Homo sapiens: one gene and its partners. The protein of the gene in region 1 interacts with the protein of each later gene in a pairwise test. Each region holds a gene or a part of one and is shown in the gene's direction. Other genes may lie near its edges.

Evidence for each region.
Region 2: the proteins of TBC1D1 (region 1) and TCEA2 interact in binary tests that used the Homo sapiens proteins (3 or more experiments, as listed by UniProt).
Region 3: the proteins of TBC1D1 (region 1) and PNKP interact in binary tests that used the Homo sapiens proteins (3 or more experiments, as listed by UniProt).
Region 4: the proteins of TBC1D1 (region 1) and FAM161A interact in binary tests that used the Homo sapiens proteins (3 or more experiments, as listed by UniProt).

What each region holds. Positions count from the first base shown.
Region 1 is NC_000004.12:37,886,432-37,894,088, forward strand, and holds the start of TBC1D1 (TBC1 domain family member 1), read left to right. Parts: upstream 1-4,652; 5' UTR 4,653-4,917; intron 4,918-7,657. UniProt on the Homo sapiens protein: May act as a GTPase-activating protein for Rab family protein(s). May play a role in the cell cycle and differentiation of various tissues.
Region 2 is NC_000020.11:64,066,170-64,072,851, forward strand, and holds the end of TCEA2 (transcription elongation factor A protein 2), read left to right. Parts: intron 1-77; exon of another isoform or gene 78-163; intron 164-236; exon of another isoform or gene 237-306; coding exon 307-369; intron 370-745; coding exon 746-851; intron 852-1,877; coding exon 1,878-1,965; intron 1,966-3,191; coding exon 3,192-3,322; intron 3,323-3,595; coding exon 3,596-3,652; intron 3,653-4,090; coding exon 4,091-4,245; intron 4,246-4,319; coding exon 4,320-4,466; intron 4,467-5,700; coding exon 5,701-5,772; coding exon of another isoform or gene 5,773-5,856; exon of another isoform or gene 5,857-6,002; coding exon 6,003-6,011; 3' UTR 6,012-6,178; downstream 6,179-6,682. UniProt on the Homo sapiens protein: Necessary for efficient RNA polymerase II transcription elongation past template-encoded arresting sites.
Region 3 is NC_000019.10:49,860,672-49,864,576, reverse strand, and holds the end of PNKP (bifunctional polynucleotide phosphatase/kinase), read left to right. Parts: intron 1-173; coding exon 174-253; intron 254-340; coding exon 341-398; intron 399-505; coding exon 506-613; intron 614-816; coding exon 817-888; intron 889-1,838; coding exon 1,839-1,887; intron 1,888-1,968; coding exon 1,969-2,039; intron 2,040-2,113; coding exon 2,114-2,206; intron 2,207-2,295; coding exon 2,296-2,392; intron 2,393-2,471; coding exon 2,472-2,533; intron 2,534-2,695; coding exon 2,696-2,805; intron 2,806-2,881; coding exon 2,882-2,969; intron 2,970-3,066; coding exon 3,067-3,128; intron 3,129-3,211; coding exon 3,212-3,329; 3' UTR 3,330-3,373; downstream 3,374-3,905. UniProt on the Homo sapiens protein: Plays a key role in the repair of DNA damage, functioning as part of both the non-homologous end-joining (NHEJ) and base excision repair (BER) pathways.
Region 4 is NC_000002.12:61,837,030-61,844,061, reverse strand, and holds part of FAM161A (protein FAM161A), read left to right. Parts: intron 1-1,701; coding exon 1,702-1,940; intron 1,941-3,480; coding exon 3,481-4,641; intron 4,642-5,356; coding exon 5,357-5,524; exon of another isoform or gene 5,525-6,117; intron 6,118-7,032. UniProt on the Homo sapiens protein: Involved in ciliogenesis.

The sequences.
Region 1 (7,657 bases):
GAGGAAGACAAAGAAAGAGAAAGAGAAAGAGAAAAAGAAAGAAAGAAAAGAAAGAAAACAAGATATTTGGGCATAACTTAACAGACTCTATGTTATTATTATTATTATTTAGAGACAGTTTCTCACTCCAACACCCAGATTGGAGTGTGGTGGTGTCATCACAGCTTGCTGCAGCCTCAACCTCCAGGGCTCAAACCATCCTCCCACCTCAGCCTCCTGGGTAGCTTGAACTACAGGTGTGCAACACCACGCCCAGCTAAGTTTTTTTTTTTTGTATTTTTTTATAGAGGTTTTGTCATGTTGCCTAGGCTCATCTCCAACTCCTGGGCTCAAGTGATCAGCCCACCTCAACCTCCCAAAGTGCTGGGATTATAGGATAAGCCACCACCCCAGCCTTCACAAACTCTTTAGATCTAACTGTTATGCCTTGGATTGACAGGGTTGGCAAATTACCTGGCGCTGGTGTTGCAATGCTGCCTCCTCCCATGCTTGAGGCAGGTGCTGCTTCTCAATCTTGCACCCTTTCCCACTGAGCATGGACTTGCCTTACAAGCCTCGTCCACTCAGGGCTCCAGAAAGTCACTATCAATCAATGGGAACAAGCATACCCAGTGAACCACCTTACTATCCTAGGGTTCTAGCCAGTATAGTCTTATTTTTTGCCTTTATTGATGCCATTTTTTGGAAATGGACCCACTACCTTATTATGCACATTTTGAATTTAAGTAAAAATATATAATAGCAATAGTTTGGATTCCTAACTAATATGAGCATTTAAATACCTAACTGATGGATTTAATGATGATTAATTTTGTTAAAGGTCTTCTTTCTACATCAACGAAAGATTTTAATTCTAGATGTATATATGGTTCCCATGGTTCCCTTAACTTTTTAAAAGTAAAGTGGCCTCTGTTTTCTTTCAGGCTCTGAGCTTTTCATGTGATTTAATAGCATCGATGGTTCACAATTTTCTAGAGCTCTGCAGCCATCTTAAAGCTGATATTAATGTTCCTGGCTTTTGGCAATGAATAACTAATTATGCTGCAAATAGCTAAATTAGGAAAGAGTCTATGGGAGAAGCCCTAAAAGAATGATCCATGGCAGGATTTTGGGAAGAGCTGGAGGTGCGGAAGTTGTCCAGACAGGAAAAGTGCAGCAGCCATGATGGTCGGTGCCTTCGCATCAGGGTTTTCACTCGCTGAGCCAATGGGTCCATAGCTGATGTCAGCTAAATGCCCATGGTGGTGAAGAGCTCCACACTCCTTGTGTTCCTGGGTCATACTCCGTCAGAAGAATCAGAAGCTGAAGCAGAATCATTGGAGCATTTGGCCCTATTCTCTGCTTGCTTTTGTTATCGGTGACTTAAAGAGGGACCAACAGAACACCTTCCTGGGCCTTGAGGGAGCTCTCTGTTGCCATCACCAAGGCCCCATTGGCCCACGCTTCTACCATGGTGTGTACCAGCTCTCCTGGGAGTCACGTGGCCACATATCAAGGGGAAGGAGCTACTTCCCTCCTAGAGCAATGGCACCTGCAGGTAAGAGCTGAGTGGTGAGCTCTTACTTCTGCACTCTGCACTGGGCCAGTATGGATCTCCCCAACCACATTTGACAGTCTTCATCCTGCCATACCAGGTATCACCATCTGCTTCAAAGTCCCCTTTACTATTTGTTCTACAACTGCTAGAAAACCTAAGGCCAAATAGATTGATAGCAAGCTGTCCCCTAATTTCTAAGATAATGCTGTATAGATTTTAAAAAGAATTTCAACAATCCTTATTGCATACTATAGAGGGAGTTCTGTTTCCCAGAAGTTGAAAGTATGGTAAAATCCCTCCTCATCATTCTTAGGGTGCTAGCTGTCCTGGGAGCTGGAAAAGTGATGCAGAAATTGCTGCTTCTCACAAGGCCATGACCTCTCCCTAACCTAGGTAAGGGTCAAGGCAAATGGTCATTTGCCACTAAATTATAAATCTCTGAGCTGGAACTTGCTGGATGTCAATGCTTTGAGAGATATGAGGCCTGGGCCTGCATCTGGGCCCCACCCATCGACTTCCTACATCTGTATTCTGGTTAGGCACCCCGCCTGGCTGCCTACCTGTACTTAAGCCTTCCTGTACTCTGGGACTAGGGGTAAGGGTGAAGAGAGGGTAGAGGAGGTGAGCAAGTGAGGGAAAGAAAAGGTAGTGGAGTGGCAGGATGGGAGGGGGCTCTAGCCAGGATGTTCTGTAAGCAGAGCCCAGCAAATTATCTCTGTTCCCCTTGGCCTGACCCCTTTTCCCAGGAGCAGGGCCTGGCAAGCAGGGTTGTTAGGTAACAGTTTCAACCATCCTCTGGTGGGTTACATACAAAAAGCAGTTTACAGTGTCAATGAAATGAATGCTAGTGTACCTTTCTCGACCTCCTAGCACTCTGGAGGTAAATGTGTGCAGCAGGTCACTGCAGACAGGGAGAGAGAGTTCTACAACAGAGTTGAAGGTAAAAACATGAAATAATTTGGGATATGACCCAAGTGATAACAATATGGTTTAACTGGTTTACCTGGTCTTGTAACCTAAAGAATAATTTCCATAACCCAGTTAACATTCTACTCATTACAGTATTTATGACTGTATATTTCTTAAAAAAGAGTTGAGGCTATGCACACAAATAACTACTCAATGACAAAGAATGAGCTGAGGGCTACACAGTGGCCAGAGAGCAAGTATATTATAAAGGGCTTTGGATCTTGGAGATTCCAGCACCCACTAACCCTGTAGGCACTAACCTCTTACTTTTCTCCTTAGTCAAATGGATTTAACAATCTTTGCCCTGCAGAGTTTTTGAGCAAATTAGCAACAATATATAAGGACAGTATCTAGCACAATACCCCAAATCGACTAACTCCTCCGTAAAGAATAGCTACCACTATTGTGAGAGTTTTAAGTCAAGCTGTGAATAAAACTCTTGGGTCCACTTAAAAATACCTCCCCTGGATGTAAGCATCCAGGGAAATCAGGGAATGCCATAAGACAGCCCTAATCTAAAAGCCTACAAGAAGCTCAGTGGGCTTCAAGGAAGACACTGCTCTTGGTACGATGAGGAAACCTGGCCCTCTATTTGCCTCCTGGGCCACAGTAATATTGATAATAGCTGCTGCTTTTAGTTGAGGACCATGTACGTCTGTGTCACTGCACTGGCCACTTTACTTACACTTTCCTGCTTTGTCCTCACAAAGATCCTGTAAGGTGTGTATTGGTCCCATTTAGCAGGTAAGACAATGAAGACCAGAGGTCCAGCACCTTGCCTAAACCACACCTGCTGGGATTTGGATTCAAGTCCAACCGTACAGCTCAAACGCTCAGCCACTTCCCTAAAGTCCACCCCCAGCTACATTAAGTAAAAAAATCCAGAAAGATGCCACCTGGGGGTCTGGAACTGCCTCCTCCGAGCACCCGGCTCTCCCCTCCCTGCGGACTCTTCTCTGGAGAGGATGTGATGCTTCTTACTTTTCTCAGATCCCTCTCCCCACCCTGCGAGTGACGTTGCGCCTCTGTGCCTGGTGGGATAGGGATCTGGGAGCTTCGCCTGTTTTTTGCACACTGCCATCCCCTAGTCTTAGGGAGCGAGCTCTGTCCCGCTTTTCACATCTCCGCGTCTTTCCTTGCACTCTACATCACCGCTGGGAATGTCCCCAGACCTGATCGGGGCATGCACACTGGGGTGTGCGTGTGCGTGTGGTGTGTGTTCCTGCGCGTGTGCCGGGCTCGCGGGGCAGGAAAAAGCGCCTAATCCAGGCTCTGCGTCACTCCCGCAATTGGTTAGAAATGGAGTTTCCTGGTGTTTAATCCCGGGAGGGCACTTCGCCTTCGTTGTTTCCCAGAGTCCCTGATTTTCCTGCCTCGCATGCCAGCGCCCCATAGGGCATCCGTGCCTCAGTTCACCTCTTGCCATCCTCCAAGGACGGGGAGAAGGGGTAAGGCGGGGGAGAGCAAGGTGGCTTGGTCGCCCCCGGCCCCCGCCCCCCATGTTGTGTGCAGTTTCCACCACGTCTGTTTCGGAGGGAGAAGAGGAGGGTGCAGATGAGGCGAGGCGCCTTCGGGAGCGCGGAGAGCGGGCAGGCAGTGCCACCTGCTGAGAGCCACTCAGGCCGAGCAAGCGGCGGGCAGTGCCACCTGCTATAAATAGGCCGCCAAGGACAGGGTGTGCGACTGTACATCCCGCCACGAGGGCCTGCATCACGCGCGGGGCCCCGCGCCCCCGGCTCCCCAGGGAAACGCTGTGCCCAGATCCTGCGCAGGGGTCTGGATGGGGCGGCGGCCCGAGTACTTCCCCCCTATTCCCCCCACAGACACTGGCTGAGGATGGCCCGCGGGCTTGGGGGCGGGGGGTGGCAAGGAGGGGAGGGAGGCCGCGGCGGACCCGCAGTGCAGCAGCTGTTGCTCGCGTGTGACTCGCCCGTCCGGGCCGTGCTGCCCAGGCACAGTCACACGGCGCAGTGGGGAGGAGGAGGACACCGAGTCCCCCTCCCAGCTCCCCGGGGACCGAGTGGGGAGATCCCGGCTCCTGTCTTCCCCTCGCCTCCAGCGCGCTCGCCCAGGCTGGGAGGAGGAAACCAGAGCCGCGCGCAGACACCTCCTCCTTCTCCTCCTCTTCTTCCTCCTCCTCCTCCTCCTCCTCTTCGGCTGCTGCTCCTGGTGCCGCCACCGTCCGCCGGTGCCTGTTGCTGCCGCCGCCGCGGGACCTGCTGTGTCCTCAGCTGGGTGGAGAAGAGGCGGGCGCCGAGCCGAGGGGAGCCCCCTCCCCGTCCCCCCGCGGCGGGAAGAGCGCAGCCAGCCGGGTGCGATGGACTCCCCGCCCGCCCAGGCCGTCCCCAGGATGCCCCCAAGCACCTGCGCGTCCCGGCCCGGCCCCGGGCTCTGAGCGCGCCGCGGCACAGGTAAGGCGCTTCCTGGGGCTTCGTCCTGGCCACCCTGCTGGCTCCTCTCGGGGCGTCGCGGCCGCCCCCTCCCGCAGCACGCCCCTGCCCCGCCTGGCCGCGGAGGGGAAGGCATCTGGCCGCCCACGGACGCGAGGCCAGGGTCTCTCGGGGGAGGAAGTTCATTGCCATCTCGTTGCCCCCCTTACCCCCCCACCCCCGCCGCCCTTGGACGAAAGCGAAACCTTAATGTTGCTAGCGACCCGAGAGCTCCGCCGGCTTCTCCCCCAACCCCCGCCAGCTCACTGGTCCGCGCATCTCTCCCCTCCCCCCTCCCGCCAATTATCCTAGCGTGTTTGCAAGGCGACCAGATTGGAAAGAGTGTGGTCAGAGTGACCCCAAGCCACGCTTTAAAAGTTCAGGGTACTTTGCAGTAGTAACTTTGGCAGCTCCACCAGTGCGCGCAACATTTCTTTCTATGGGTACATCCTGTACCAGTCATTTTGAAACCCTGCTTCATTGTTTCTAGCCGCTTCCTGATGGCTCTGTGATTATGAGACCCCCCTCAAACTTCACCAGGCATTAAGGTTTTGTTTTTGCTTTTTTTTCAGAGAGGTATCATTTCGTTTGAAATCCACCTAGATGTGGCTTTTCCTGTTTTGATTTTACTTAACATAGCTTATTCTCTGGAAGTTGCTTTAAAAAGAAATTGAAAGTGATGGTTGTTCCTTCCACCAAACAGTTTAATTTTCAGGGTGCCTCATATTAATGGATATGTTTTCCCTTCATAGATTTCTCATTGTTTCCCTTATGATGGGATGATTTCATTTATTAATAAAATCAGACTTTGAAAGAGCATTTAAAAATGACCTGGTTTAAATAGGTCACACCCAAGAAACTCAGCTATCTGTACAAGTTCAAACTTCTAAACTTTTTCAATGAGCTAGGGGTGGTGGCACCCACCTGTAGTCCCAGCTACTTGGGAGGCTGAGGCAGGAGGATCACTTGAGCCCAGGAGTTCGAGGCCATAGTGAGCTATGACTGTGCCACCTCACTGGAGCCTGGGTGACAAAGTGAGATCCCATCTCTTAAAAAAAAAGAGTTTAGGGGACATTTTCTGAAGTGAACACAAGTAGAGCATTCTAACACTATTGAGTGCAAGGAGACCTGGAAGGGACTAAGTGGTTCAAAGCAGGAAATAAAATCATCAGGTGATAATTAAAATAATTTCTTTCCTGTGGATTTGTCCAGCCATTTGCAAACCAGGAGAATAGGAAAAAAAATCACTAGTGTAGTTATAAATTATTACATTACGTTTTCAAAGGAAAATTTTGCAAATGCGTCTCCTTGTCATAGTCTATTGTTATCTACCCCACTGAGAGTGCTGGGGCTTCCCCTTTTCACCACGACAGCATTTCTGGTTGGGTGGCAGTCATGCAGTGTTGACCTGGTGTCCCATAAGGCACAGTTTGTCAAAACACTAGTGGGTATTAGGAGGAAACGTGCAACTCTGAAGCAACAGAGCTTGCCCCTTCTTCCTCATTATCCAGCTGGTGATAATCCCTGTCCCCCACTTCCCTAGAAGACAGCTTTGACCAGGAAGGCTGCAATGACAATGAGATGTACCCCTATGCAGAGCCAGATGTGGGCGGGTGGCTTTTTTGTGGTCCAGATCTTCTAGGATCTTCTAGGATGTAACCCTGGCAAGCAGTGGGGAGCCTGAATCAAGCAGCATGGCTGTTACCTCTTCTGTGTTCACAGCAGCATCTTCAGTTGTCTTGGTGCCTGGAGCAGGCACCACAGCTGCCTGCTCTGTTGGCCACCAGCTTTCTAGAGTAGATGGTAGGGAGGAGAGCAAGGGGCTCAAGAGGATTCTGTCTTTGAACATGCTTTTAATTTGATCTGACAGAATGGCAGCTCCCTGAAGTCCTTCCTACTCTCTCCACAGCATTTCTCTGTAGGTCCCCAGTTTTTGCTCTTTTCAGATTCCCAGAGGACTGAAAATGTATCACGGCCCATTTGGGGACTTCCTGTATATGTGTGGGTGCCTCAGGATCATTTGTTTTGCCCTTTTCCAGTCTACCGTGCTGCCCTTCTCAAGTTTAATGACCACGTTAGTTTCAATATTTTATATATTTCTCAGCAGTTTTCATCTCTTGGTCATTAAACTTGAGAAGTAAAATCTGCTCATTAAAATGACTGAGTCCATGGCCAGGCATGGTGGCTCATGCCTGTAATCCCAGCACTTTGGGAGTCCAAGGCGGGTGGATCACTTGAGGTCAGGAGTTCGAGACCAGCCTGGCCAGCATGGCAAAACCCTGTCTCTACAAAAATATAGATCTACAAAAACTAGCCAGGCATGGTGGCATGTGCCTGTAGTCCCAGCTATTTGGGAGGCTGAGACAGGAGAATCGCTTGAAGCCAGGAGGCGGAGGTTGCAGTGAAACATGATCGTGCCACTGAGTCCATTCAGCAGCAGAGTAGTGTTGGGGTTTGTATCCCTGTAGTGATGACGAAGGATTTAGGTTTTCAGTCAGAACTGTTACCTTACAATTTCCTTCACTGACTTTTCTTCCTTTCCAACACCACATTCCAATAAAAAATATCTTTAGACCAGATTCTTCACGAAAGACATGAAGGTTTTCATGCTTCAAGGTTTTTGACTTTTTTTTTTTTTTTTGAAAGGAGTCTTGCTGTGTCACCCAGGCTGGAGTGCAGTGGCGTGATCTCAGCTCACTGCAACCTCCGCCTCCTGGGTTCA
Region 2 (6,682 bases), on another chromosome or scaffold:
GTGACCTGAGGTGGTTACAACGAAGTCAGTGAGGTCATTGCCACGGATGTGGGTTACAACTTGGAATGCTTGAGGCTGCAGAACCCCTCCCCTTCTTGACTGAGCAGTAAGGGTTCCCTGCTGTGGTGCAGGAACATGTGGGCAGAGCCCTGGGTGTCTCCAGGTAGAGGAATTTTGGTTTCTTTTTGACCCCAGGTTGAATCTCCAAATTGTCACTGCCTTGTGTTCTCCTCCAGTAGGCAGAAGGAGGTGATATTGTCTGTTGAGATCTAAAGTCCTTTATGAAGGTCCTCCTTCTCCTTCCAGGAGGGAGCCATGGATTTGCTGCGGGAGCTGAAGGCCATGCCTATCACGCTGCACCTGCTCCAGGTAGGTCCCTGCCTGCCCCAGGTCCAGGACAGCTCCTGGGTGCAGCCCAGGGGATGGCAGTTCTGAGGGCACCTGGCAGGGCTTCCCCACCCTCCCCACCAGGCCTTAGTTGGCACAAATGCCTGTTCCTGAGGAGAGGGTCTCTGCCTTTCTCTGGGCTCAGTGGGACAGGGAGGGGAGTCTGAGGATAACCCATCTTGTCCTCCGTGGCTGAGGCTCCTGGGTTCCAAATGGGACAGTCGCCATTGGGAGAGGCCTCTACCTCCCTGGGAGGTCCCGGGCTCCTGTCCTGTGGGGGCCACCAAGGCTCTGCCAGGAGAATCTGACCCCTAGGGTGGGCCCCTGCCTCCCCCAACCCAGACCACTTGCCTCGTAGTCCACCCGAGTCGGGATGTCTGTCAACGCCCTTCGGAAGCAGAGCTCGGATGAGGAGGTCATTGCACTGGCCAAGTCTCTCATCAAGTCCTGGAAGAAGCTCCTGGGTGCGGCTCAGGCGGTGCCCACTGAGTGCTGGGGCAGGGGTCCCAGAAGTGCTGCCTCTTGCTGGTCAGCACAGTGTAGAGTGCTGGCAGTGTCCACCCTGAGCCAGGTCGCTTGGGAGTGGGGCAGTGGCAAACCCAGACCATGAAGCGCCCAGCTTGGGGCTGGCAGTGGATCAGTGGGTGCCTGTCAGCATTGGCTGGGAGGTGTGGCCTAGGAGGCCAGGGTGTGTGCTGGGGGCAGGGTTCCAGGTAGAACAAGGAGAGAAGAGAGTTGAGGCCAGGACTTGAACTGACAGCACTGAGAGACTGGGGTGAGTTGGGAGGTCACACAGAGGGGAAGGTCATGGCCAGGAGGCTGGGAAGTGCCGGGAGAGGGGAAGCGGGAGGGAGAAGGCAGGGCCACCTCAGCTACTCAGAGGGAACAGAGGGGCAGCCCCCTGCCAGGGAAGGGAAGGGCTGGGCTGGGCTGGGCTGGACTGAAGGCTGCCTCTTCCTGGAGACAGTGGGGTGACTGGGGTTGCAAAGATGCTGCTGTCTGGGATGGAGGCAACCCTCCTAGCTCTGTCCACACCCTTGTGAAACAGTCTCTCTCCAGCCCTGTGTGGCCCTCAGGCTGTGCATGGCACAAGCATGTCCTGGTCCCCAGCCCTTGGGCCTGGCTCTGGGCTTTCAGGAAGAGCCTTCTTGGGGACATGCTTGGTCTCTCTGGCCAGGACAGGCAGGAGGGTGGGCCCCAGAGAGGCCCCAGAGGTGGCCTTTGTGAGTGGGTGCTTGTACGGGAAAGGGTTCTGGGGAGGCAGCCTCAGGACTGCAGAGATGGACAGGTTGCTGGGGAGGGTGAGGACCTGTTCACAGAGGCTGGGCAGCCTCCTGGCCCCTGGCTCCCCTGGCTGGGTGAGGGGCTGGGGGCGGGGGCTGGGGCTGGGGCCGTGTTGGTGGTCGGGCTGAGGCTGTACCTTGGTGGTGGTCTGTGCCCCTCCCTCCTCTGCCTCCCCTTGATCAGCCCATCCCCGATCTTTCCTGCAGATGCTTCCGATGCCAAAGCCAGGGAGCGGGGGAGGGGCATGCCTCTGCCCACGTCCTCGAGGGATGCCTCAGAGGCCCCGGATCCCAGGTAGCACACCTGGAAGGCAGGTGCACACACTTCTGCTTCCCAGCCTGTTTCCTTGCCAGAGAAAGGGTGCCAGTCTCCATGTGCCTAGGCACTGCTTTGAGGCTGCACACAGAGTCGGTCAGCCTCATGCTGGACACCAGCCTTGTGGTGTGTCCCGCCTGCACTGACCACTTGAGATGTGGGTCTGTGTCCACCTGGCTGTCAGCCAGCCATCCTGGCCTCTTCCTCTGCCAAGAGCTGCTGTATACCCTGAGTGGGCCTGTGGGAGCCCCCTGGCCTCTTCCCCCAAGGCCCCCTGCTGGGTCTGGTTCTTGCTGGCCCACTCTGGCTTCCCCCTCAGCCTCACTCAACGACGGTCCCTCCTTCCTGCAAAATTCTGCCCAGAACCAAAGGCGGGGGCCAACTCCCCTCCTGCCCTGCATGTGCACGTGTGGTCACTGCTGCCAGGGGGTGATAAGGGCTCTGTGGCCTGCAGCTGGGAGCTGGGGGTGCTTATTGTGGCAGGCTATAGCCGAGAGATGGCTTTGCCCTTGACCACACTGGGTTGTGGTGACTGGGCCACCAGGAGCTCAGGGACACCTTTGCAAGTTGATTTTCCTCCAGGAAGCTGCCTGCTTCTGCCAACTTCCACAGAGGGGATGAGGGGAGGGCTAGGTGGATGCAGCCTGGTCGTTGGGCAGCCCCATGTTGGGGTCCAGCCCTGAGGGGCATCCTTCTCCCATTCTGTACGTGCCCAGGGGTGTCGTCTGTGACAGCAGAACCTGGCCTTGGGCGGCCCCGCCTTGTCTCCCCCCAGACAGCTGTGGGTCTCTCCCTCTCCCTGACCAGGCAGCAGCTGCAGCTGCCCTCAGCAGAGTATTTGTGTTGCGGCCCAGTGGGTGGGCACCCCAGAGGTGGCAGGAACTGCCAGGTTCATTCTGATCGACTGGTAATGCTGCCCAGATGCTGACTGCTGGGTCTGGGATCCTGTTCCCACCTGGAGAGTACACCCTGACCCACTGGGGACCTCATGGCCCTCTCCCTCCTGGCTGCTGGGCACACCCCATGGACATCTGGGCTGGACTCAAGATAGGCAGGGCCACAGGCCACTGTTGGACTCTGGCAGAGTAGAACAAGCAGGGGTTGGTGGGGGATTATGCTGTGGCACCTGCTGCTTCTAGGACCAGTGTCTCGCTGGGGTGCCTGCAGCCTTGAGTCTGAACCCAGCTGGCCCTGGCTCTCTGCAGCCGCAAGAGGCCGGAGCTGCCCAGGGCACCGTCGACTCCGAGGATCACCACATTTCCTCCGGTGCCTGTCACCTGTGATGCCGTGCGCAACAAGTGCCGCGAGATGCTGACCGCTGCCCTGCAGACGGACCGTGAGTGCGGCCGGCCCTGGCTCCTGACACCCGCTGTGGTTCACAGGGTGGCCCGGGCCCCTGCCTGCCCGCAGAGGCCTGCTTCCAGCGGGGTGACTGTCCTCCCCCAGCCCATTGCTGTGGCCCTGGCAGGGGCTAGGGGCCTGTGCCTGGATCGTGGGCCTCTTGCAGGGACCCGGATGTGCCCTCTAAGCTGCCAGGGTGTTTTGCAGGCAGAAGGGGTGGCAGGTGGAGAAACCAGTGGGGGAAGCTAGTCAGGGCTCCCTCTTGCAGATGACCACGTGGCCATCGGTGCGGACTGCGAGCGCCTGTCGGCTCAGATCGAGGAATATATCCTTTGGGTAGGGGCTGTGGGCCTGGGTTTCTGGTGGAGTCAGGAGGCTGCCTGGCCTGGTGCCCTCTGGTGGCTGCTGGATGCCACTGCCCAGCTGTCCAGGGGTCACCTGCCTGGGTGGTCACCTGCCTGGGTGGTCAGGCTGTCTCACCTCAGGAGGGCCCCCGGACCAGCTGAAGGGCTGATTCTGTCTGCTTGTGGGGCCTAGGTCCCCTGGGGCTGTAGCCTGAAGCTGGGTCTCAGTCAGGAATGGGCCTGGGGCAGGCTTGGCCCTGCAGCCCTTCACCTCTCCACCAGGTGTGGGTGGGCAGACCGACCCCTGTGTGGCTGGGCAGAACCTTTCCAGCCCCCACCCCAACATGGCCCCCAGCGGGGCAGGTGGTAGGTGGAGGGCAGCGACGTTGTCCTCAGGTGGGTCCTTAAAACACTTGCACGCATCTTCCGGGACGTTGGAAACACAGACATGAAGTATAAGAACCGTGTACGGAGTCGTATCTCCAACCTGAAGGATGCCAAGAACCCTGACCTGCGGCGGAATGTGCTGTGTGGGGCCATAACACCCCAGCAGATCGCTGTGATGACCTCAGAGGTGAGCCCCTGTTGGAGGGGCTGGAGGGCTGCTCCCTCGGAGCGGTGGGCTAAGCCACTGGCCCCGTGCTCCAGGAGATGGCCAGTGATGAGCTGAAGGAGATCCGTAAGGCCATGACCAAGGAGGCCATCCGAGAGCACCAGATGGCCCGCACTGGCGGCACGCAGACAGACCTGTTCACCTGCGGCAAGTGCAGGAAAAAGAACTGCACCTACACACAGGTGAGCGGCCGCTGGGCACCCTCCCCCGGGCCCGGTGTCTTCAGGGCATCTGGTGCCCCTCCTTGGAGCCCATGCCTATTCCCGCCTCTGCTGCATGAATTTCCCGAGCCTCTCAGTCCCTGAGTAGGCTAAGGCATGATGGCCACCTTCAGGGACCACTCCCCTCTACCCAGGACCTCTGGGCTCCACGGGGCGGCGTCTTGGGTGGTGGGACCCACTTGTTGCGGATACTCAAGTCAGAGGGCCTGGCCTGGCCCAGCCCAGCCTGAACGGAGGGCCCTCGAGGTGTTGATGTTGGTGGGAGGGCCGTGCTGCCTGCTGCCTGGCAGTGACTGCAGGACCCTCAGTCCCTGCCATGGAGGTGGACACTGAGTGTGCTGGGGAGACTGTGGATCCCATGAGATGGCAGGGACCCTGTTAAGAGGGGAGTGCGGCTGGGTGCAGTGGCTCACATCTGTAATCCCAGCACTTTGGGAGGCCGAGGCAGGCGGATAATGAGGTCAGGAGTTCGAGACCAGCCTGACCAACATGGTGAAACCCCGTCTCTACTAAAAATACAAAAATTAGCTGGGCGTGGTGGCGCATGCCTGTAATCCCAGCTACTCAGGAGGCTGAGGCAGGAGAATCACTTGAACCCGGGAGACAGAGGTTGCAGTGAGTCCAGATCGTGCCACTGCTCTCCAGCCTGGGCGACAGAGCGAGACTCCGTCTTTAAAAAAAAAAAAAAGAGGGGAGTGTGTCGAGGCGGCCGCTGCACCTGGCAGATGGGACTCGTGAGGGGCTGCAAGGACAGCCTTTCCTTCCCCTCGAAGGCTGCATGGGGCCTGGGTCGGTGCAGAGCCTGCCTCTCTCCTGCTCCCAGCCACTGGTCAGAACAGGCTCTGCCTGTGGCCGGAGGCTCACCCTTGGGCCTTCCGGAAGGCAGCCGCGGGCACTGGGGACCCCTGCTAGTTCCCCCCACCATTGGGACCCTCTTGCCCTCAGCCAAGTCTGGGCCCTCCTGGTCCCCAGCCAATGTGAGCTGCTTCAGGCTCACACAAGGGCCTCTGCCCCGATAAACTCTGTCTCCCTCCCCCGGAGGCTCAGCTTTGGAAGGTTGGAGTCACGAGGCGGCCTCGGATCAGGTCACCTGTGGGAGCTCAGTGGCTGCGAGGCCCGCACTGCCCATGTTGAGGGGATGCCGTCTGCAGCGGAGCATGGAGGTGACCCTGGGTTCACCCAGCCCTGTTCACAGGTGCAGACCCGCAGCTCTGATGAGCCCATGACCACCTTTGTTGTCTGCAACGAGTGTGGAAACCGCTGGAAGGTGGGTGAGCAGGCTCAGGCTGCCCCTCCCAGCTCCATTCTCTGGAGGTGGGGTGTCTCAGCCTCTGTGGGGTCTGTGGTGTGAACTGGGGATGGCCCTGCCCAACCAGCCTCCTGGGAGTCTTGGGCATGGTGGGTGGAGAGCCCAGCCTTGGGTGAGCCTGTGCGGCCTTCCACTCTGGGGGATCTCATGTGGCCACAAGGCTGGAGGCCTCACCCCCTTTCTCGCAGTTCTGCTGACCCCTCGTGTAGATGTGCTGCAGCCTTGGGCCCTCCCCGGCCCACGTCCTCCGTTGACACAGCTTCTCTGGAGACCCTAGAAGGCGGCATGTCCTGCCCTCAACCTGCCTGCCTGGATTGCACCTTTCTGCCCTTTCCCCCTCATTATTAAATGTTTCTTTTTGCCATCTTGTTCTCCTCAGCCGTTACTCCTGGTGGGCCCCTGTCCCCCATGTTTGACCCGTTTCCACTGCTGTGGACAAGGCCCCTCCCTGGGGTTGGGCAGTGCTTGGGTTTGGCCCTGGTGGGTCAGCCCCAGGAGAGGAGCTTGGCTGACCTTCAGAGATCACCTGGGGCGGCTCTGCCTGTGAGGGCAGGTGGGGAGAGGGTCTTGTGTGCGTCCTGTGCAGGGCAGTGTCCTCCCCAACGCCTCAGGCATGGGCAGCTCGGGACCTCTCGGCACTTCAGGACAGCTTGTCCCCATGCTGCCTTCTCTGTTCTTGTGGGAGTTGTGGTCTCAGGGCCCTGAGCCAATTTCAGCTTCAACTCACTTAACTTCCCAGAAATGCAGGGGATGGGCTGGTGAGCACTCAACTCATGGGGCCTGTGAGATGAGAAAGATGACATTGGGCCTGGCACCAAGTGGCCCCTCCTGCCCCAGCCAGCCTGCCTCTGGGGACCCCGTCCGGCTG
Region 3 (3,905 bases), on another chromosome or scaffold:
CACTCAGAGGCATCACGGATGCTTGAGATGGAGGTGCTCTGTGACTCGGTTTCCCCATCTGTGAGATGGCAGTGATAACACCCTGCCTGGCAGGGTTGGTGTGAGTCAGCCTGTGAGTGAGGAGGGTCAGAGGTATCACAGTGCTGCTGTTTGTCTTTCCTTGGTGACACCAGGTGGCTGGCTTTGATCTGGACGGGACGCTCATCACCACACGCTCTGGGAAGGTCTTTCCCACTGGCCCCAGTGACTGGAGGTGATAAGAGGCAAAACAAGGGAGTGAGTGAGGCCTGGAGTCCACCTCTGGCCCCGGGTCACCCCTGCCGCTTCATACCTGCCGTAGGATCTTGTACCCAGAGATTCCCCGTAAGCTCCGAGAGCTGGAAGCCGAGGGCTACAAGGTATGTGCAGCCGCCTGTCTGCATGGGCACGTGCACGTGGCGGTCCGACCGCAGTCAGACCAAGGCCCTGGTGAGCAGAGCGTCTGGTGACACCCTTTGCTCCCCAGCTGGTGATCTTCACCAACCAGATGAGCATCGGGCGCGGGAAGCTGCCAGCCGAGGAGTTCAAGGCCAAGGTGGAGGCTGTGGTGGAGAAGCTGGGGGTCCCCTTCCAGGTATGGCTGGAAGGGAGGCTGGGAGCTATGTGGGGGCACAGAGATCCAGAGCGAGGGCTTTAGACTCCAGGGTAAGCGGGGCGGAGGCCTCAGGCAGTGTGATGCTGATAGGAACCCATCATCAGCTACAAATTCTGGGCTGGGGTGGCATCCAGTAGGTGCTTGAGGGGGAGCTAAAGCTGGTGGCCCCCTCCCATCCACAGGTGCTGGTGGCCACGCACGCAGGCTTGTACCGGAAGCCGGTGACGGGCATGTGGGACCATCTGCAGGAGCAGGTGAGTCTTGCAGCCTGCCCGGCCCCCCTCCTTTTCCTCACTCCAGCCCCTCACTCCTGGGCTCCCCGGCCTCCGGTTGGGGCCTCCTTACTCCTCTGTCCTCTCTCGCTCCCTCCTTCTGTTTTTTGCTGTGACATCTTAGATGTTGGTTTACGAGACCAGTGCTTTCAGACTTTCTACATCAGAGTAGTAGGGAAGCTGTTCATTCCTTCGTTCATTCGTTTGTGTGTGCATTTGTTCTGAAGTTTAGCGCATTCTTGAGCTGAAGGTATCAGTGAGCGGGACGGCCTGCTCCAGCAGGGCCCTCACGGCGAGGGCGGTGACTCTAGGCGGATGGGCAGACTGGCGTGTAAAACAGCAGGAGGGAGGGAGCTGGAGAAAGCAGGCATCACCCGTGGTGGGCAGGGATGGCCTCTGAGGAGGTGACATCAGAGGAAAAGGCCTAAGGCAGGGAAAGGAGGGAGCCAGGTGGACACCTGGGGAAAGCGGTCCCCCCCCTTGTGGGAGTGACAGCAAGTGCAAAGGCCCTGAGGCAGTCCCTAGCCTGGGCTAGTTAGGGACAGCGAGGCCCATGCGGCTGGCTCTAAGCGAGGGAGGGGAGAGGGCAGGGCCACAGGGAGGGCCCCGCTTTTGCCCTGAGGGAGGGGGAACCTGGGAGGCGCCGGCACGCCGGAGGCTGGAGCTGTAGCAGGGTGGGTGCCCTCCGGTGGCCGCGTGGGGAACGGGAGGAGGTGAAGTCGGGAGACCTGGAGGGAGGGGGCTGTGTGGAGAGACCACGGAGGGGGGAGGGGGCCAGGAGCACGGTGCAAAGTGGCTGGAGAGTGAGGACATGAAAGGTCGGGGGATGATTCCTGATGTGGGGCACAGACCAGGCGAAGCAGCCCCAGGGACCCGCTACCGCTGCGGGGGGACATTTGTGGGAAGGGCCTCCTCACTACCGTCTCCCGTAGGCCAACGACGGCACGCCCATATCCATCGGGGACAGCATCTTTGTGGGAGGTAAGGGCCTGGAGGCTGCTGAGGGTGGGCTGGGACGCCTCCCTCCGAGCTGGTGGGAACGGGGTGTCCCGTGTGTTCCAGACGCAGCCGGACGCCCGGCCAACTGGGCCCCGGGGCGGAAGAAGAAAGACTTCTCCTGCGCCGATCGCCTGGTGAGGCCCCTGCCCCCTGCCCCGCGCCCGAGCCCGACCCTGGCCTGTGTCTGATGTTCGTCCTCAACCCCTAGTTTGCCCTCAACCTTGGCCTGCCCTTCGCCACGCCTGAGGAGTTCTTTCTCAAGTGGCCAGCAGCCGGCTTCGAGCTCCCAGCCTTTGATCCGGTGAGGCCCTGGGGCGGGGGTGGGGGTGGGGATGGGAGGGCTCCCGGGGATGGGGACGGCATCTCACGCGTGTCCCCCGCCCCTCGCAGAGGACTGTCTCCCGCTCAGGGCCTCTCTGCCTCCCCGAGTCCAGGGCCCTCCTGAGCGCCAGCCCGGAGGTGGTTGTCGCAGTGGGATTCCCTGGGGGTAAGTGTCCTGTTCCTGTGCGCGTGCCCTGAGCCCCGCCTGGGTCCTAGGCCACCCACCGACACTGCCCCCCACACAGCCGGGAAGTCCACCTTTCTCAAGAAGCACCTCGTGTCGGCCGGATATGTCCACGTGAACAGGGTATGACCAGGCTTTTGCCGCCCCAAATCTATTATAAAGTTCCCATCTCCACCTCTCAACTGGTTTGGGGCGGCTTTCCTCCATCATTGCCTCCCCGTCCCCGCTCGGGGTCTTCTCTCCCCCTGGGTCTGCCGATCTGTTTGTGACCTCTCGTGTCCCCAGGACACGCTAGGCTCCTGGCAGCGCTGTGTGACCACGTGTGAGACAGCCCTGAAGCAAGGGAAACGGGTCGCCATCGACAACACAAACCCAGACGCCGCGAGCCGCGCCAGGTAGCGTGACCGCGGGGCCGTAGGTGGCCTGCGGCGGGGTGGGCGGGGCCTGCACATCCAGCTCCTTCCCCCACAGGTACGTCCAGTGTGCCCGAGCCGCGGGCGTCCCCTGCCGCTGCTTCCTCTTCACCGCCACTCTGGAGCAGGCGCGCCACAACAACCGGGTGAGCCCGCTCAGCCCGGACACCCCCCGGGCTGCACCCCCTGACCCCCCTCCTCCCCTGACCCCTGGGCCTGCCGCCCCTCTGATGTTCCCCACAGTTTCGAGAGATGACGGACTCCTCTCATATCCCCGTGTCAGACATGGTCATGTATGGCTACAGGTACTGTTGGGGATAGCAGGGGGCAGGGGCACTGGCTGGGCCACATGATCCAGGCTGTCCCTCACTGTTCCCACCACTGCCAGGAAGCAGTTCGAGGCCCCAACGCTGGCTGAAGGCTTCTCTGCCATCCTGGAGATCCCGTTCCGGCTATGGGTGGAGCCGAGGCTGGGGCGGCTGTACTGCCAGTTCTCCGAGGGCTGAGCCCCGCCCAGCTCCCCTCCACAATAAACGCTGTTTCTCCTTGAGCTTGGCCGGCATTTTGCTGGAAGGAGGGTGGTCCCCACGGGGGAGGGGCTCCAGGCCTGCCAGTTTCTTACATGGAGGAGGCTTTAAGGACATTTTCAGGTAACAAAAGGTGGGGCCCTACCGAGGGGAGTCCAGCTGGGACCTGGCATGAGCACTTTAGACATTAGCCGGGGAACACACAGGGAGGGCGCTGTGTGGCCCCCCGAGAGCCAGCTGGTGAGCCCACGAGCCTCAACCGAGGGGCTGGCTCAAGGCCAGGTGTGACCCCTGAGGACAAAATCCAGCTCAGGTTCTGTGACACTGAACTTGAACCCAAGGCCTGCGGGTCTGGAGATTCGGGGGGGAAGAGGGTGTGGACAGCCGAGAGCCAGACCCAGTGAGTTCCCGGGCTGTCCAGCCTGCTGGGCCACCTTAGAGCTAGGGGGCTGCAAGGCATCGGGCAGTGAGCAGAGAAGGCAGGCAGGTTTTTAAAAGGCTTTATTGGGGAAACGTAGAGGGGTGGGGACCGTCCTTGGAGGCCTCAGGACACCA
Region 4 (7,032 bases), on another chromosome or scaffold:
ACGCCATTCTCCTGCTGCAGCCTCCCGAGTAGCTGGGAATATAGGTGCCCGCCAGCACACCTGGCTAATTTTTTGTATTTTTAGTAGAGATGGGGTTTTGCCATGTTAGCCAGGATTGTCTCAATCTCCTGACCTCGTGATCCACCTGCCTCGGCCTCCCAAAGTGCTGGGATTATAGGCGTGAGCCACCGTGCCCGGCCTCTGAAGACTGATTTTTTAAAAGTTGTTTTCTTTAAGTTACCCCAAGTAGTACAACATTGTCCTCTTGTATGCTGATTTTAGCGTATTAAAAAAAATACCATATCTTCTGAGAAGCCTCCAGTGGGAAACAAAAATACCACATCTATAACTACTATTTATAATTGACTCTTCTGAATTTTTATTTTGAGAGAAGCTAAACAGATTATTTTCTAGAGTCTTATCAGATTGGATCTATAATTTTCTGTAGCAAATTTTTTCATTTTGCATCTGTTCCAGACAGTAGGCTAAATTTAAAACTGTGGTTGGCAGCCTTTTATGCATAGTATCATAAATAATTTCAACTGTTTCTCAACTGAGAACATAATAAAAATTTTATATTTATGGAGAAAATGGGGTTTTATCTCTTTAGTTGCTTCAATTAAAAGAACTGAAAGGGTAGGGCACGGTGGCTCATGCCCATAATCCCAGCACTTTGAGAGGCCGAGGCGAGTAGATCACCTGAGGTCAAGAATTCAAGACCAGTCTGGCCAACATGGTGAAACCCCGTCTCTACTAAAATACAAAAATTAGCTGGGTGTGGTGGTGTGCGCCTGTAATCCCAGCTACTTGGGAGTCTGAGGCAGGAGAAGGCAGAGGTTGCAGTGAGCTGAGATGGTGCCACTGCACTCCAGCCTGAGTGACAGAGTGAGACTCCGTCTCGTAAAAACAAACAAACAAACAAAAAAACTGAAAGGTATGTAAAGGGAGTGAGGGAGAAAGGCCAGTCAGACCCTTCTAAACATGATCTGTATGTTGAATAATTACAGCATTTTTTCTTCTTTGCTTTGTTGTCATCCTAAAGTCCCGGTCACCCATGGGAGCTACTGCTTTTGTGCCCACAGAAGCAGCTACCCTGAAAGTCCCTCCTACCCCCTCCCATGTCCTCTTACTCCCTCCCAAAGTCTTGCCCCACTGTGAGGAGGGCTTCTCCCTGGCTCCTTGATAAGCCACTGAGAACTTTGTCCCTGCCCCCATTTCCTCTATTTCCCTGCCTTCTCTCCACTGGCAGTCCTTGGAGCCACACTGCAGGAGCGCAGCTGGAGGGAGAGCATTGGGCTGTGGTTGCCTGGTTTACAGCAGGTAGAACCGTGTTCCTCTTCATCTCAGTTAAAACTTACAACTCAGGAGGCTCCTTATAGAAATACTTTGTAAAGGGTTGTTGGGTTCTATCCTATTATACCTTTTGTTGGTTGATCTGGGAATTGAACCATCCTTTATCAAATGGATTAAATAACATTTATTTTCTGACAGTTTGGTCTTGCTCCCTCTCGTTCTTAAAATATCACTGGGGAAAATGTACATAGCCCACAAATAACCTATAACTCATTCTATATGCATAGCCCATAATTAATGTATAACCTAACTAGGTGGACTCTTTAAGAAGCAGCATTTTGGATCAGTGTCAGCTTAATTTGTCTTTCAGCTCCAGTCACTATATATCAAGTGTTTTCTCCCCACCAGGCTGATTTGAACACCAGCTTTTCTGGGGTGGATGAACATGCACCGATAAGCTATGAGGACTTTGTGAACTTTCCTGATATTCACCACTCTAATGAGGAGTATTTCAAGAAAGTAGAAGAGTTGAAGGCTGCCCACATAGAAACTATGGCAAAATTAGAGAAAATGTACCAGGATAAATTACATTTAAAGGAAGTTCAGCCAGTGGTCATCAGAGAAGACTCTCTTAGTGACTCTTCCAGGTAAGCTTGTAACTCAATGTTATTTGTGGAGTATAAAATAAAATGTATCCTTAAAAGGACAGAACAAAGTTACTTCATAATATTTTCTCTTAAATAGCCCTTTGTACTCCCAACGATATACAGAGGTAGGATTTTATTCAAAATGTTTAATGGCTTATCAGCTTACTGGATGACCGTTTGCTTGAGGGTCATTTGGTGGCCATTTGGTCTTTTCTTTCTGACCCACCCATAGAACTGAGGGCATGTATCAAAATACTTAGTCTGTGCCATTTTAACTGGTAAATATAAAAGTTTAATTTTAAAAGCTCTTTATAATATGTGGATTAACATGAGCTCATTAAAGATCTAGTACAAAGAGTTCAGGACTAGGAGACATGAATCTGATTTATGTTTTCAAAATAGTCTGCAATTTCAAGACCCATTTCTGCTGTGAACTCACCTGCTCTGAGACTTACACATCTAGTCAGTCAGCGATGCTTGCATGTCTCCTTTGTGCCAGACTATGCCTGGGCGCTGAGGAGTCAAAAACAAGATGCCCTCAAGGAGCTTAGAGACTAGCTGAGAACCAAAAATTGCATTACAGCATGATGTAACAGAGTGTTACAGAGGAAGAAGCAGTTGGTCATGCCAAGCTTTCAGAGGGATGCAGGCCAGAATTTTCCACTAAAGTGTCACATCTGAGTTCAGTCTTGGAGGAGGAATAAGTATTGGCCTTCTAGGCAGCAGAAACCATGTATGCAAAGGCAAGATGGCATGAGAAATCATATCGTGTGTGAGGAACTTCACAGGACTGGATATGAATGCAGAATGGAGACTGGGGTAGCCAGTGGTGAGGGGTAAGACTGAAAAGATAGGCGCCAGTCTCGAAGGGCTTGTAATCTAGGCTTGACTTCGTAGCAGTGAGGAATTATCAAAAAGTTTCAAGCAGGGGAATGACATGATCAGATCTATGCTTCAGGACAGTGACTCTGGAAAGTGGGGAGAATTTAATAGAGGTTAGACACAAGGACCCTCTGCCATCTCAGGTTCCTTCCCTGTAAAATGAAGGAGTCAAAGTGGATAATTTATGGGCATTGCCCAGCTCTATTCCAAATAAAAGTGATGATTCTTACAAGCCCTGTCCAGCTCCTCGCTTCTGATTATACCCTGATCTTAGAAAATATGTAACTCTTGGCTGGGCACAGTGGCTCATGCCTGTAATCTCAGCACTTTGGGAGGCGGAGGCAGGCAGATCACGAGGTCAGGAGATTGAGACCATCCTGGGTAACTTGGTAAAACCCTGTCTCTACTAAAAATGCAGAAAATTAGCTGAGCATGGTGGCACAAGCCTGTAGTCCCAGCTACTCGGGAGGCTGAGACAGGAGAATTGCTTGAACCTGGGAGGTGGAGGTTGCAGTGAGCCGATATCACACCACTGCACTCCAACCTGGGCAACAGAGTGAGACTCTGTCTCAGAAAAAAAAAGAAAATATGTAACTCTTAATTTTTATATTTGGTCACATACAACTGAAAGTATAACATAGTTATTCTTCTCATTTAGATCTGTATCAGAAAAGAACTCCTATCACCCTGTCTCATTAATGACATCATTTTCAGAGCCTGATTTAGGCCAGTCTTCCTCCTTGTATGTGTCCTCCTCTGAAGAGGAGTTACCCAACCTAGAAAAAGAGTATCCTAGGAAAAACAGAATGATGACCTATGCTAAGGAGCTCATCAACAATATGTGGACAGACTTTTGTGTTGAGGATTATATTCGCTGTAAAGATACTGGCTTCCATGCAGCTGAAAAAAGAAGGAAGAAACGAAAAGAATGGGTGCCCACAATTACAGTACCGGAGCCTTTTCAAATGATGATAAGAGAACAGAAGAAAAAAGAAGAGTCCATGAAATCTAAATCAGATATCGAAATGGTACATAAAGCGCTCAAAAAACAAGAAGAGGATCCAGAGTATAAGAAGAAATTCCGAGCCAATCCAGTTCCTGCATCTGTCTTTCTCCCCCTTTACCATGATTTAGTCAAGCAAAAAGAAGAACGGAGAAGGTCTCTGAAGGAGAAAAGCAAAGAAGCTCTTTTGGCCTCACAAAAGCCATTTAAATTTATAGCAAGGGAGGAACAGAAGCGAGCAGCCCGGGAAAAGCAGCTGAGAGACTTTCTTAAGTATAAAAAGAAAACAAATCGATTTAAAGCCAGACCCATTCCTCGATCTACTTATGGTTCAACTACCAATGACAAGTTAAAAGAAGAAGAGCTCTATCGAAACCTTAGGACACAGCTGAGAGCCCAGGAGCATTTACAGAACTCATCTCCTCTGCCTTGTAGGTCAGCTTGTGGATGCAGGAACCCCAGGTGTCCTGAACAGGCTGTAAAGTTGAAGTGTAAACACAAGGTTAGGTGCCCAACTCCTGATTTTGAGGACCTTCCTGAGAGATACCAGAAACACCTCTCAGAACACAAGTCTCCAAAACTCTTAACAGTGTGTAAACCATTTGATCTTCATGCATCTCCACATGCATCTATTAAAAGAGAAAAAATTTTGGCAGACATCGAAGCAGATGAAGAAAATTTAAAAGAAACACGTTGGCCTTATTTGTCTCCAAGGCGTAAGTCACCAGTAAGATGTGCAGGTGTAAACCCTGTGCCTTGTAACTGCAACCCTCCCGTGCCCACGGTATCTTCCAGAGGACGAGAACAAGCCGTAAGGTAAGTAAGTAGGACGCAGTACTGACTGACTCATGGTTGCCAGATGAGTGTATGCAGCTCTGTGGAGTTTATGTTGGTAAATTTGAAAATACTTAGAAATTATTATTGTATCTATAAGATATTTTACTATATAATATATGATATTTTGTCAGAGGGTATTCTAAGAAATGAATATATTTTTCATTTATAAATTTTGGGGGATTAGAAAATAATAGTCTTAAGATTTCTAGTTTTACCTGGCTGGGCACAGTGGCTTACACCTGTAATCCCAGTGCTTTGGGAGGTCGAGGCAGGTGGATCACAAGGTCAGGAGTTCAAGACCACCCTGGCCGAGATAATGAAACCCCCATCTCTACTAAAAATACAAAAAATTAGCTGGGCGTGGTGGCGGGTGCCTGTAATCCCAGCTACTCAGGAGGCTGAGGCAGGAGAATCGCTTGAATCCAGGAGGCAGAGGTTGCAGTGAGCCGAGATCACGCCATGGCACTCCAGCCTGGGCGACAGAGCGAGACTCCATCTCAAAAAAAATAAATAAATAAATAAATAAATAAATAAATAAATAAATATTTCTAGTTTTACAGGTCAGATCCTTTTCAAAAGGTTACCTTTTTTCAAATTTTGAATTATCAAAATTCAAATTATCCCATGTTAAATCTTTGCTAAACAACATTCTGATTGGCTTAAAGTGGATTAAGCCTTAGTTTGTTACCCTCAGGAGATCACTTGAGGAAAAGAAAATGTTGGAAGAAGAGAGAAATCGGATCCTAACTAAACAGAAGCAAAGAATGAAAGAATTGCAGAAACTCCTGACAACCCGGGCTAAGGCTTATGACTCACATCAAAGTTTAGCTCAAATATCTAAATCCAGAGTAAAATGTCTCAGGTATCATGAAAAAATCTTGAATCTCCAGACCACTGGTTTTCAAACTCTTTTTTTTTTAATCAGTAGATAGTAAAATATGAGCAGATTGAAAATAGCATTAGTGTTTTAGCTTATGGATTTAAATTGTCATCAGTTACTTGTGTTCAGTGCACACACACTCACCTCATGGTGAGAACCAACATATAAACTCACCTTTATGGTGAGAACCATGAAGCTATGTTGATGAATACAGACATTTTCTATTGTGGCCTTAGTTAATGGTTATAATCTTATACCAATATCTGATCTTGTTCTTTATATTATTTTTGATTGCAGTAAACAGATATATCAAAGAGCTTTGTTCTAAGGTTTGGATGAAATCTGATAGCACAAATTAACACGTTAAACATCGGTTATGTGATGTGTTCATTAGCACATATGTTAATGTTTAGTAGTATGTGTTGCATTTTGTTAGTTTCAATATAAAAATATTCACGGAATTCTTAGAACCCCTTCACTAGAATTTTGCAGTACAAAGTTTGAAAACCAGTGTTCCAGATGTTGCACATAAAAATGTTGATGTTTAAGTAGGAAACTATCTCCCTCAAAGCCAGGTAAGTAATGTGATTTATTACTTTTTAATCTGATTTCTAAATATGCATATGTGCTTTTAATTACAATGAGTATTCTTTTATAATTTAGCTTTAATCCATTGATAAAGGGAGCTTAATTTGATGAACGTGAGCATAATGTTTCTTAGAAATAGATTACTTACCCTTAGGAAGTAAACTATTAATAGCTTTTTATTTTTTATTTATTTATTTTTTTGAGACAGAGTCTCGCTCTGTCACCTAGGCTGGATCCCGAGTTCAAGCGATTCTCCTGCCTCAGCTTACAGAGTAGCTGGGATTACAGGTGCTCACCACCACGCCTAGCTAATTTTTGTATTTTTGGTAGAGATGAGGTTTTGCCATGTTGGCCAAGCTGGTCTCAAACTCCTGACCTCAGGTGATCTGCCTACCTTGGCCTCCCAAAGTGCTGGGATTACAGGCGTGAGCCACCGTGCCTGGACAATAGCTTTTTCATAACACCAACTTGTGTATAATTAAGCCTAATTATCATTTAAAAGTATAATTATTTTCCCCAATCCATTAATCTTATTTATCTTGGTAGCAATTATATCTTACATAGAGAAAATAGTGTAGTTTAATTTATTATAGGATCTTGCTCAAACAGTGAGAACACTTACGGTAAATTTATATATTTTGGTTCCTGTTTCTCTTTATGTTGTATTCCCATGCTCTTTACTTCTCCTTTGACTTGCTCCCATTGAATTAACTTTGCCACTAACCTGTAGGAGATCTTATTTAGGGGAAAAAAATAACAGCAAAGGCTGGATGCCATGGCTCACATCTGTAATCCCAACACCTCAGGAGTACAAGGCAGGAAGATTGCTTGAGCCCAGGAGTTTGAGACCAGCCTGGTAAACATAATGAGACCCCCATCTCTACAAAAAATTTAAAAAAATT